Homo sapiens: one gene and its partners. The protein of the gene in region 3 interacts with the protein of the main gene of each other region in a biochemical or structural test. Each region holds a gene or a part of one and is shown on either strand. Other genes may lie near its edges.

Region 1 (3,500 bases), on a different chromosome or scaffold from region 3:
GGAGAAGAACTTTTACATAAAAAGCTTCAAATTTAGTCAGTTGTAGCAAGCACTTGAAAAGACCCTGCTCTTTCATCTGCAATATCAGGAATTACTATATCTGACTCATATTTGATTAAGTTACAATCTCATTTTTGTTGTCACTACAAAGAAGGATCCTTATATTAGTAAATGCACTCACTGCAACTACTGAGGCCTGCCTCCTGTCAGAATGACAATGCAGTCTTAGCATACGGGTGTCGGTTTGGCTGAATCTAACCAAACACATCACGTACTACAGATGTTTTTAGGGCCCACCCAATTCATAAAAGATTTTACTGCGATACATGAGTTTACCCAAATTTTTATTAAAATGTGTTTTTAGGGTAAATATCTTGATGAACTAGGCAAACAAATACTGAATGCAGATTACTGTTTTTACAGTTTTACCGGGAAAACTCCTAATAGCAACCCCTCTTCCCCTTCACCACAGATCTTTAATTTAGGTGTGATTTTTGTTTGTTCTCTACATGGGAATAAAGGAGAAAGTTTAGAAAGACTGTATCTAGCTAGATAAGATGCAGAGGTAGATGGAATCTCTAACATAAAAGAAGCTCTAATTACACTGTTGCCAGACAGCTGTTATGGATTTTAGTATTGTTTATTAGGTGAAGAAAACATTCATAAAATAAGAAATTTTTGAGATAGAACTTACTCTAATAATTTCATTAACATATGTTCAGGTTCTTAGATCAAGAAATACTGTAGAGGTGTTCTCCTCAAGACTATGCTATGGCAATAATTTCTTGCATACAATTTAATAATTTAAACTTGAACTGTGTGTTCTGTGCTCTGGCGTTCTACTTCAGAAAAAAATGAACACTGCTTCTAAAATAAAAAGGAACATAAAATAAAAAAGGAATTAATGAGATATTGACATGTTTTCTATTAATACAATATTGATGTTTTAAATGATTTTGATATTGCTATAACAACATATATTGTGCAAAATAATTAATCTCACTAAATATTATTTCTGATTTGCCACGAATTATCTGCCGTGGCAATCAGGAAATAGTCTTCAAAGTAAGTTTGCAAACATGATTTTGCAAACCATGATTGGAAAAATATATTCATTTGGGCTATAAACTATCAAGTAGGGTTGTTATATATATTTCTAGGAAAATATTTTATTTACTCTACAAAGATCATCATTATGACCTTACGGCTTCTGTAGTGCAATGGAGAAAAAAGTGTGTTAGAAGTTAAAAGACCTGAATTCTATCTCCAACCCTGCATTTATTCAGAGTATTGGTATAGGTTTAGGCAAAATCCTTAATCCAGTCTAGTTTTATATGGTAAAAATGTGGATACCTATCAAAACTGAGGGTTGAGAGGATGAAATGAATTCATTAAACATATCTTCTGAGACATAAATATATCAAAACAAATCAAAATACAATTAGATCTAATGTTTAGAAATAAATATTTTAATTCATATTTGCTATTTCACTAAATCTAGAAATACTAATGCTTTAGTTAAATATAGAAAGTTGATGATAGAAAAATAAAATCCATCGTACCATTGAAAAGCTTGTCAGAAATATGTACTCTTGAGATTCGGAGGATGAGAAAAAAAATGTGTACTCTAACGAGGAAGCTATATAAACTGAGTCTAACTCAAAACATTTATTTTAGATGCATATAAGAATTAAAGTCTTAGTCAAAAGAATGTTTTAAAATTTCATCCTAAATTTATGTGAGATAAAATGCCATTCTTTTGTTTTTCTGAACAGAGGAGCTTTTATCAACTTATTCTATTTTATTTTTATTTTTATTATTTTATTTTATTTTATTTATTATTATTATACTTTAAGTTTTAGGGTACATGTGCACAATGTGCAGGTTAGTTACATATGTATACATGTGCCATGCTGGTGCGCTGCACCCACTAACTCGTCACCTAGCATTAGGTATATCTCCCAATGCTATCCCTCCCCCCTCCCCCGACCCCACCACAGTCCCCAGAGTGTGATGTTCCCCTTCCTGTGTCCATGTGTTCTCATTGTTCAGTTCCCACCTATGAGTGAGAATATGCGGTGTTTGGTTTTTTGTTCTTGCGATAGTTTACTGAGAATGATGATTTCTAATTTCATCCATGTCCCTACACGAACTTATTCTATTTTAATAGAATGTTCAGTATCAGTGTTTTCACACTGAGATTCTCTAGCTTATTTTGCCATATTTAAATTAAAAAGAAACAAAAAATCCTGTTTGATCATGTGAAAAATATTTACTGAAATGTGAATAAATTTATGATCATTAATTGCCTACTGAAATATTCCTGAATATTGCTCACCTTATTAACAAGTATATATGGAGACTGAAAAACATGTAGATCATGCAAACAAGTGTAACTAACTATACCAAAGAAACAAAAGTCCATACTAAATATGTCCATAATTAAATAAAAAATGCTAAACAAGTTTTACCTAGATATTATAAAAACATAGAAAGGAAAACATTTAGGAGATGATGAAGAAGCAGGAGATTGGGATGGGAGATGTAATTTGATCTAAATTCCCATATGCTTCTGTAAAATCAAAAATTCATTTTGCAATATTAATTTTGCTCTTAAGGTAGAGACTTTTAAAATGACCATTCTCAATACTACAGCAATTCTTCCCTGATTTGCACATAAATGAATTAAAGTGAAGAAAAAGCAGTAGAGGAGAGAAGACTAAAATAAACCAGATTGTAGCACCCTGTAAAGAGCTAAAATCTCCAGTGTACAAACAACTGATAGGAAAGAAGAGAAAATCAGAACTATAAAAAAGTGACATAAGCTCAGAAAATTACTCATTTTTAATTGTATCAACAAAGATAATTTGTAATTTTGATCATGCAAGCATTATAATTACTGATAATTGGGCCTTTCAGCTTTTAAGTGCCTTCTCAAACATGAGTTCTGCATATGGTTGTGCAGAAATCAAAATCTTAAAGAGAGATGAGTAAAGTCAAGTTTGTAATATTAATCTTATATTCTCAATATAGATGCTAATTAGTGCTCTGAATGGTTGTGGTTAGAAATCTTGTTGGTATGATGTATCAGTGATGTCACTGCATTGATGGAGACAGAATAATACATAATGGTGCAATGTGGTGATGGTAAGCTTTGTTACTCAATATTGTCAGGCACTTTAAGAAAATCAGAAACATTCAGGATAGTGCCAAAGAAGATCAGTTTTTCAAGACTCTAAAATCATATTCAATTATATGTGTATGTAATTATAAATATGTGCATCATGGCTGACTTTGAGAAGAATGCAGCGCCTTGCAAGTGCACTATTTGAATAGAGCTAAGGAGAACTATAGTCTAAGGACTGCAAAAGTCTAGATGGAGAAGACAAAAGCAATGACACTTGTTTTCTCTACAGAACAAATAGACAAAGAGGTGAATGACAACAAAGATGTTCAGAGAAACTTGAAAAATAAGCTACGGTGTAGGGTAAGTTGTATTA
Region 2 (3,500 bases), on a different chromosome or scaffold from region 3:
GCATGGGGTTTTGCAAGACAGGCCTGCGGCACAGCCAGCTCTGCACTTGAGCCCACTCTTCCCCTTTGGGGGCTCAGTCACCCCATCACAGAGTGCAGCAGGGCTGACAACAGCAAAAGCATGTGTGTGGTTTGCCTCCCTCTCAGGATGGTCCCAGGTTCAAAGACAATGCTATGTATGCAAAACACCCCTTACCAGATGTGTGCGTGCAATCTTAGGGCCCCACAGCCTCTCTCTTCTCAAAGAGAGTCAAGCATAGCACTGAAGAGGCTAGAGCTCTATCACGTGAGATATGGATGAGAAAGGAAGGAAAGCAGACACACTCTCTGGCTGGGGGCTGGTCTTGAGGACTAAGGATCCTGACCTGGCAGCACACATCCATCACCGGCCCCCAGAGCGGGGGTTGGGGGAGAGGTACACTGTTCCCCGGGAGGTTCCACCCAAAACAAAAAATCTGGCCTCACATGCTGGGGTGGGAGGTAGTAGGCGTCTCCTTGGAGATCTCCGTGAATCATAGCAAACGGGCGAGTCATCGTCCTCCAAGAATCCTTGGGGATGATGGTAGCCTCGGGGCCTCTCAGAGTCGATGTTTCTGCCTGGGTATCTGCTGTAGTAGCCATAGTTTTGCCTGGAGGTCAGAGAGGAGGGCAGTAAGGTTCTAGGTAACAAGCTCTGTCACTCAACCCTGCCAGACTGACATCCATACTCCTCTCCCCGCCTCCTCCCTTGGACACAGTAGGATTGGCTGAGAACAAGGCTGGCCTCAGTTTCATGGAAGATTCCAGATGGAGACCAAGGGCCATTACAGGACTGGAGGCCTGTGCTGAGGGATGTGCTGGCAGTTTTGATCCCTCAGCTCCAGGGCAAATGTGGATCGCAGATGTCCTGTGAGCCAGGCTCTCACCCACTCATTTCCTCCGTGAGAGCCCCTCTCCTGAGTGCCTTCCCTCTGCCAGGTGCTGGGCACCAAGGACACCAAGATGCATGAAGCATGAGCCCCACCCTCAATGGGCTTAGAAAATGCCATGAGCACACAGAAATCAAATGCGAGCTGGAAAGGGCCAGTGCTGGAAGAGAGGAACTCATGCGGTTCGTGAGGTTTTCTTTTCTGGGGGTTGGGGGAGGGATTTCAATTCCAGTCATGGAAATAAAAAGCAAGGCCCTAGAGCAGGCCCTCGACAGGGGGGATGAGGCCAGCAGACGGAGTGAGGGCATCCAAGCAGGGGCCACAGTGTGAGCAAAAGCCCTAGAGAAGGGAACACGAGTTCATCTGGCTCAGAGTCAGTGGTTTCAGAAGTCAGGCATTTGAGAGAGGCACGGGGAAGGGCTGCGGGAGCAGAGGGTGAGGGTCAGGCTGTGGCTCAGATGCCAGAAGCCACCTCACTGCCATTCCACTTCCACTTCACTGGGCCCCTGGTCACAGTGAGGTGCGGTTCAGAGAAGAGGGTGGAGGGCGATTTTCATCCGCCTGTGCCGCCTGCTACGCCTCCTAAAGCAGAGTGCCCATTGTACTAACAAACATTCTTTCTGTAGGACAGAAGCAAGATGGACCCCTCTGCTGAGTGACCCCTCATTTCTTCATCTCCCCGAGAGACCCCTTGAAGTGGCAGGAGGCAGGTGCTGTGCATGAGGACCTGGCCCAGCTCCAGGCTGGCCAAGCCGCCGTCCACACAGAGCCCTGGGGCCGCCAGAGCTCCAAGTGTTAATTCAGCAAAAACTGATCTCTCCAAAGACGGGTGGTGGAAAGGCATTAACCCAGCCACGAAGCAGGCCCATCTCCCATTTCCCAAGCCTTCACTAAAAGGCCTCAGAGGCCCCTAGTGGAAATAAGGCAACAGGTCTGAAAGAATAGCCCTCACCCTGCCTCTCTGCGGCTCTCTTTCTCCAGCTCCACTCTCCCTCTGGCCTGGAGTTTCTGCTCCCATTTTGCTTTTTAGGGGAAGCCCAAGTGCAGCTGCCGGTGGCCCTGGCTTCCGGAGTGGGCCGAGCACCAGGGCAGGGCGGCCTCCCGCTCTCCACAGGAGCCAGAGCAGCTCACCTGCTCCAGGTGGGCGAGCTGTCATCCTCGTAGCATTCCTCACTACTGAAATACTCCTGCTCCCCCAAGCAGTGGGGGTCCCTGAAATAGCCATGTATCTCTGGGTCTTCCCGGCAAATAGTTGGGAGCTGTTCATCTCCTGAGTCGGACCTGCAGTTGGGAGAGAGGATCTGAGAACCTGGGCAGGCGGCAGATAATTCCTGCTGCAGCTGCACCTCTGCCTGTGGCCGGCAACCCTGCCCGGGTGCTCCTGGCTTCTCCCAGCGCGCACCTGCCTCAGGCAGCACTGGACTGTTCCGGCTTCTGGCAACAGCACCGTGTGTGTGTCTGTGTGTGTGGTGTGCCTGCGGGCCAGGATAGGGTCTCTCTCAGTGCCCTGCACAATGTTGGTGTCAAACCATTGTGTCCAGAGGCCTTGGAGCCAAAGGAATAGGTGCAATTTGGAGAACAGAACAAAAAAATGGACCTAGGGAAAAAGACCCTGGGTTCCCAGGGCATCTGCTCTGATCCCTCCCTCTCCTTCTAGTCCCCCAGCTCCAGCCCAGTGTGACTTCAGAACCTGGAACAAAGGAGCTTCCTGGCCACTGACCTCCTGCTGTATCAAATCAGGAAGGTCGAGTGAGTTCTGGATACAGTGCCACAGGGGAAACTGTCACAGAACATGTCCACCATGTTTCCAAAGGCTGCCCTGCCCCAGGAATGTGGTAAGTCTCCCTGAAACCCGGCTCATCCTGGCCTCAGTCCTCAGAGAAGGACGTGGTGATGTCAATCCTCTCTCCAAAGGAAGGATGGCACTTCCTCTGACTTCTCCACTTTCTTGCACCCAACTTGGGCCCACATGGCTCCCGACTTCACTTCATAACATGACACAGGAAGACCCATCCTCCCTTGGCCCCCAACAAAATGGGCATTCCGCCCACAATTCAACTCAGGTCAATACATGTGGAGTGGAATATACTACACATATCTTGAGGGCTACAGGGAAAATGACAAGATCCCATTCCTGACCTTCAGGAGGTTTGGGTCATGCTGCAAAGCACCCACAAGAAGCTTGACCCCAGAGAGCAGCCGGAGCTGCCAGCCACACAGGCTGAGGCCCCTGTAAATGCACAATGGATGCTCCTAGTGCCATCGCGAGGCCTGCAGGAGCCAGCCCATGGGGTGCACCTTGTGTGTGGACACCAGTCCTTGGATGGCAACAGAGTCGACAGAGATATGGATCTGAAGGTGCCTTTGCTTAGAAGCAACAACCTCTGACCTCTGAGTCCACAGCCATGAATTATGATAACCTTTAATAGGCTGGCTCAAAGAAGTGTTTCTCATTCTTCAGCACTCAGAGAGGCCAGCTGGTAACATACCATCACAGTATTTAACACAAAAACAGGTAATGAGCACATACCTAATGTAAGTTTCATAATAGCGGGTTCTATCCAGGAAAGGCATAACATGGGAAGGAGGGAGA
Region 3 (2,835 bases):
CCCGAGTAGCTGGGATTACAGGCATGTGCCACCATGCCCGGCTAATTTTGTACTTTTAGTAGAGACAGGGTTTCTCCATGTTGGTCAGGCTGGTCTTGAACTCCTAACCTCAGGTGATCCACCCGCCTTGGCCTCTCAAAGTGCTGGCAACACCAAAGTGTTATTTTATTTTATTTTTTTAAAGGCAGTCTTGCGTAAATTACTTCACTTGACCCACAGTTCATGTGGTTGTAAATGGGAACCCCACCTCCTACCTATGAAGGATAGATACCATTGGGGTTAAATGAGATGGATGAAAAGTTCAGAGAATAGTGTCCGCCACACAGCAGCTATTAAAAACTGCTAGGTACTCCTTCCTGAAATCGATCTGGGATTCTATGAGAAAGGAGCTGAACAGTATTTAATACAAATCAAGGTTCTAAATGACCTGAAATAAATTCACATACAGTCAGACTGTTGACATGTTAGATCACAAAAAATCTAGTCACCTGACAACACCATTTCTTATGTGGACTTCTTTTAAACATTTATTAAAAAAGCAAAATGTATGTTCATCTCAAATCTAACAGTTAAAAATGGTAAAGCAATACAAACAATGTGTTACTAGCAGCATCCAGTCGTTAGAATCTCTCACCCTGCTTCTCGGTCTGATCTGTGCAAGCTCAGTCTCTTCTGAGCCTGCAGCTACCTCCATCCCTCATCGTAGTGCAGGCCAAACCAAATTTTATAAAATTAACAATTTAAGGTTAAATAAGCTTAAATAAGGGTGTTAAATACAAGACACTTCATCAAAGCTTCTGTACAAAGATAAACAAATCTGGCATTGTACAAGTGGTTCCGCTGGCTCACAGCACACAGGGAAGTTCTAGTGAGTAAGCAGATTCACTCTCATTTCTTTCCAGCAGAGCAACTATACAAAAGTGAACTAAGAGTTGAAGTGACTACTGACCACTCGGTGAGCCATTTACAAGGCATATGTATCTTTTTTTTGTTTTTAATCAGAACACTGTTAATATTCAGGCACCATTTGTTCCTGCAAATAAATAAGTCTCTAAGGTAACTGCATCTGAACTAGTGTTAAACACAACAGTGCTTTTTTTTTTTTTTAATCCCCCCACAAAGCTTTTCCAACTATGTACTATGCCTCCTTTCTTATTGCTATGGTAATGTGGCTGTGGAAATAAAACTACTGTACATCCAAAAAAATAGAGCACCTTTAACATTAAAGTATATGTCTGATTATTTGTTCTCATGTTTATTTTACAATACTAAAGCCCAAACTATGGTAAATTGCTTTACATCTCTACCAGGTCACCTGATATACAGGAAATAAAACTCAACTATCTTCCCTCTTGAGGTAAGCCCAAGCCAGAGCACTGTTTTAGCAGAGTCTAAAAGAAAAAGGTCTCAACTGTCGCCAGGGTTTACATTCATCTTCACACCAGGAGTTACATTCATTCATCTTCACATCGGCGCTGCTCTCTGCCGTGGTTACCGAGAAAGAGTCGAGGCTCCCTATCCTGCTGTGGTGAATGGTGCTACACAGAATGGAACAGCAAAAACATCTACGATTGGTTGAAAGCACACAGAAAAACCACATGTTTGTGACTTCAAAGGGACAAGGGGCATTTCCCAGTGGTCCCTTGATGAGGTGCGGATTGGCTAAGATTTTTTGTCGATGGTGGTGAAAAACCATTCTGTGAATTTCCGCAGCTGAGCTGTCGCGGTCTGGGACTCCTCCTGCAGTCTCATGTTGTCCTGTCTCAGGTGCTGCACTTCTGCTTGGAGAACGGCCTTGTCTTGTTTTTCCTGGTCAGAGCAGAAATAAACTGAGTCATGGAGACTGATCGATACATTCATTCCTCCTAAGCTGGGCTACGAGAATCTTTGATTCTTATTTTTACTTATGTACTTTTTGAGGGGAGAAGGGGTGACTTTCTTTAGTGAGGGGACTTTTCTGATCCTGATTCCTGCTGATGACAAAGGGATGGGAATGAACACTCCACACACCCTGTTCTTTCATCCCACTCTGCTCCCATGGGGTGCTAAGATAGCCTTTATATAGGAAGGGTGTTCATCATAGTTTATATTACCCTCTATCCAAAAAAGGGAGACTACAGGGAGGTTAAAGGTAATACCCTTTTGACAAATGCACAAAACTTTCTAAGTAGAAAATTGGAATTAGCAGAGCTGTTACATATGTTTATAATAAAATATGTACTTAGGTCTTTCATTCCATCAAGCTTTCCTGCTATACTATATTTCCATAATGACCCTTAAAATCTGCTATTAAAAACTGTGTAAAAATAATCAAGACTTTCAGAAGAATCACATCTGGAGTTTCCAACATGTAGCAATAAAAAAATGTATAGCAGCAGTTTCAGTTCCCCCCCTGCTGAAAGGGATGCCTTGCCCTAAATGAATAGAGGGGTCACTGTCAGATTGTAATAATCGGTATTTCTGTAACGGGATCTAACTCAACCACTACAGCCACCACATGCCACCCCCAGCACTGTGCAGGAGCATTGAGTGAGGTGAGTGGACGCCCCCACCCTTGGCATATCTGGTCCTGCCCTCAAGGCTTCCTCGTTTCCTGAGCCCTTCCAAGGCCCTCCTCAATACCACCTGCCTGGTCACTGGCCCAAAAGACACTGGTCCTCAGAGGAGGCCTGAATCAGAGCTGACCACTCACTTTGCTGTAAGGAGCAACTGCAGCCCACCCTGGATAGACTCACTTCACTCTAAGAAGCAGCTGCAGCCCACCCTGGATACTGACTCTCCCCGGACATTCCTCACCACGACTCTCAGTCCCAAGACAGTCTGAGTCCCACAGCT
Region 4 (3,500 bases), on a different chromosome or scaffold from region 3:
TGGAAATATGGTAATTATGTTTTCTTCAGTTCAGCTAGGCAGTACTGTGTATGTGTGAATGTATGTGTGGTTGGAGGGGGAGTTAGCATTACAGAGAATCTTTTGGGATTCTTTTGAACTTTGATTAACAAGTGATGGATGATAAATACTTTGTTTTCTAAAAGGCAGAATCTCTTATAAATGGTGTCTGTGGTCAAATTCAAATATAATACATTGAAACATGGAGACTAGAAACAAAATGAAACAAAATTCTCCCTCCATTCATTTTCTATTTTTTTTTCCTGTTTATGATCTAAGCCAACAGTTCTCAAGCTGGGGTGAGTCCCCCTCCCTACTTCCCCAGATCCCCATCCATGGGACATTTGGAGACATTTTTGGTTGTCACAACAGGGGACGGGGTGTGCTACTGGCATCTAGTTGGGTAGAGGGCAGGGATGCTTCTAATCGTCCTAAAATACATGGTACAGCCTTCCACAACAAAGAGTTAGCTGGCTCAATATGTCAGTAGTGTAGAGGTCAAAAAACCCTGTTCTAAGAAAACCAAATACCACATGTTCCTATAAGTAGGAGCAAAATGATGAGAAAACATGAAAACAAAGAACAGAACAGCAGACACTGGGGTCTACTCAAGGATGGAGGGTGGGAGGAGGTAGATGAGCAGAAAAGATAACTATTGGGTACTGGACTTAATACCTGGGTAATGAAGTAATCTGCACAGCAAACCCCATTATACGAGTTTACCCATGTAACAGACCTTCACATGTACCCCCAAACCTAAAATACAAATTAAAAAAAAAGGAAAAACTCAGTTCTAAACTCTTAAATTTTAAAAGCAGTAGTTTATTAGTAAAAGGGCTCTGCTCTCTTCCCCCTAAAGTTAGTAATCTAAATTTTACAAGTACATGGTATTGATGATCTCCAGGTAACGTTGTATTGAAAGATTTTTATCTTTTCATTATCTTTTAAATTAGAATATGATTAAATTAGAGAAACAGACTATAGATACGCACATTCTTTCATCCTTGATGAAATGCTTGAGAATTCACCAGTATAGTATAATATTTTATACTATAATAAAATATTCCAATGACTTATGGATAAACTCTCCTATCACCGATTTTGATAGAGTGCTCATGAAGACTGCATGTTCCTGGACATAATGAATGATTGGTTAAGGTATCAAGTTTAATTATATTTGCTTTAGATCCAGGATTTTCTTTGCCATGATATGATCTTTAAGGATATTTGCCTTTATTTTTACTGACATCATTGGGCTGCCTTATGGCGGTATTCGTGTGTGTGTGTAACATGTTGCCTGAAATATGTTCACTATTACATGTTCCCTGAATAGTTTCAAGGTAGAAATTCTGTTTTTTTAAAAAAGATATTTCTTTTGTCTAGCTAACTTTAATTTCAAGAAACTTTTAACCTAATCTCTTAATTACATAATTATCTTGAGAATCACTAGCTGGGTTTTGGTTACCGTTAGACTAATTCATGATACAGTAAGTAATATTTTATGATCTATTGCAGATCGTTTCCCTTTTTAAGGCTAAATCTTGACCATAATTAATAAAATGCTTACCTTGTTTTGAACTCTGGTTTTAAGGGAGTTAACCTAGCCAACCAAGATAAGAATTACAGTGAAACTCTTAGCAAATTAAGGAGCATTATACCATAGAGAGGAAAATTCTGAAGTCATTCCCACAAATGGTGTCCAAATGAGCCTCACAGTGTCTTTGTAACACACCTCTCCATACCCTTCTCTCTGATACTGACATTTTCGCCTTTTGGGTCCACCAGACTCACTGTTCTTAAGAGAAGCACAACTAAACCAAATGAGATTTTAGTAATCTCTAAATTGTTTCTTTAGATTCCAAGACTTTATTTTGTTGCATTTTGACTTTTTAAAGTGCTACTATGATTTTCTCATCTTTGATATTTCATGAGTCCAATGATTTAAATTTGTGTTTTCATGGTCTGTTAAGTTGCCAGTTGCCATGTTGTCTCAGATTATAGGTAAGGTTGGCAACATTTGATACTAGGGGTCACTGGTATGCCTTAGCTTTTTGCTCACTGCTCTGTAACTCATTGTTTTTTCCATTCCCTTTCATTATTGTTCCCTTTCCATTTTCCTCCCTTCTTTGTCTACTCCCTTTTCTTCCCCTGACCCTTCTGTACTTCCTTATACTGCTTGCTTGTGGAACCCAGTTGTGGCTTAGCATCATGGGTGACTCCAGAGGGCTTACCCGTAGTTTTAATGAAAACAGATTGAATTTAGAATGCTTGAGAATTGACCAGATAGTCTTTTCCACTGTTTTTTCATTTACTGGTTTCTGGACTACCTCGCACACCCTCTTGGGAATAGTGTTACTCTCTTAGAATCAAATGGCTTGAACTTTAGATTGCTCTTATTCTCTTTTTTAATATTCAGGTTTTCCTTAACTCTTTGCTGCTTCAGAAAAAGTTTCGCTCATCTTATTATTCATTTATCATCTCTGTTTAAGCCAAAATTTGACTAGAACCAAGAGTATATTTATTGCTGCTGATAGGACCACATTAGACTTCCTCTGTGGTAGATTTAATTCTGTTAGATTGTAAAATAGTCATGTCTAGACAGAACATTGATTTCAAATTGACTATTGAACATGAAAATTCCAGGAATAGTGTATAGAGGAAGGAGGAGGAGGAGGAGAAATCAAGAAGGTAAGAAAACTACTGTAGATAGCAAGTGACTTTCTGTCATTCTCCACCTAGATTTCTTGTTAGTCACTTTTGTATACCCAGTGCATCTAGAGGTCAGGCTTTGTTTTAATAAAGGGACTTAAAGGAAATATGTTTTTGTCTCTGAGATTGGATTTTTTGAACTGTTAGAGTGGTGGACCTAAGGGAAAGAATTGGAAACTTCATATGGATAGTGATCAAGAATGTGGTCGTAGAGGTTGGTAGACTTGAGCTGTGGTGTCAGTGCTGCCAGTATCTAGCTTATGTATCATTTTCTGTTACTTGATTATTGTAGCACTTTTCTAGCTAAGATTCACCAGTTCCCTATCACTACTTCCTTTTCTTTCTAGTCCATCTGCATAGCTGCTGGAGTGATCTTATTAAAAAATAAATCTGAATATGTTACCCTTGCTTAAAACCTTTCACTGACTGTGAGTCACCTTTAGCATAGAATCTAAAGTCTTAGAATGTCATAAAAGGTCCTTCATCGTTTGGTTCCTGCCTATTTTTTCTAACCTCTTGGTATTGGTTAAGAGTATAGACTCTGGATATAGACCTAATTGGTTTAAATCTTGGTTTCATAACTTAACCTTGGTCAAGTTACTTCACCTTTGTGTGCCTCAGTTTTCTCATCTACACAATGGGGGGATATTAATAGTGCCTACCTCAGAGAGTGGTTTGAATATTAAATGCTAGTTATTCTGCTGCAGCTTCTCCTCAGCCTGAGTACTATATTCCATCCATACAGACTTGACTTGCAGTTTCTTAAATGTGTA

Evidence for each region. Proteins that work in one complex are often made in the same cells at the same time.
Region 1: the proteins of SIPA1L2 (region 3) and SLC16A7 interact in a test that uses a peptide from one of them, tested with the Homo sapiens proteins (one large-scale study listed by IntAct).
Region 2: the proteins of SIPA1L2 (region 3) and CACNA1D interact in a test that uses a peptide from one of them, tested with the Homo sapiens proteins (one large-scale study listed by IntAct).
Region 4: the proteins of SIPA1L2 (region 3) and ACVR2A interact in a test that uses a peptide from one of them, tested with the Homo sapiens proteins (one large-scale study listed by IntAct).

What each region holds. Positions count from the first base shown.
Region 1 is NC_000012.12:59,784,529-59,788,028, reverse strand, and holds part of SLC16A7 (monocarboxylate transporter 2), read right to left. Parts: 3' UTR 1-3,500. UniProt on the Homo sapiens protein: Proton-coupled monocarboxylate symporter. Catalyzes the rapid transport across the plasma membrane of monocarboxylates such as L-lactate, pyruvate and ketone bodies, acetoacetate, beta-hydroxybutyrate and acetate.
Region 2 is NC_000003.12:53,802,111-53,805,610, reverse strand, and holds part of CACNA1D (voltage-dependent L-type calcium channel subunit alpha-1D), read right to left. Parts: intron 3,465-3,500; coding exon 3,438-3,464; intron 2,189-3,437; coding exon 2,039-2,188; intron 629-2,038; coding exon 465-628; intron 1-464. UniProt on the Homo sapiens protein: Voltage-sensitive calcium channels (VSCC) mediate the entry of calcium ions into excitable cells and are also involved in a variety of calcium-dependent processes, including muscle contraction, hormone or neurotransmitter release, gene expression, cell motility, cell division and cell death.
Region 3 is NC_000001.11:232,397,465-232,400,299, forward strand, and holds the end of SIPA1L2 (signal-induced proliferation-associated 1-like protein 2), read right to left. Parts: intron 1,810-2,835; coding exon 1,663-1,809; 3' UTR 501-1,662; downstream 1-500.
Region 4 is NC_000002.12:147,848,029-147,851,528, forward strand, and holds part of ACVR2A (activin receptor type-2A isoform 1 precursor), read left to right. Parts: intron 1-3,500. UniProt on the Homo sapiens protein: On ligand binding, forms a receptor complex consisting of two type II and two type I transmembrane serine/threonine kinases.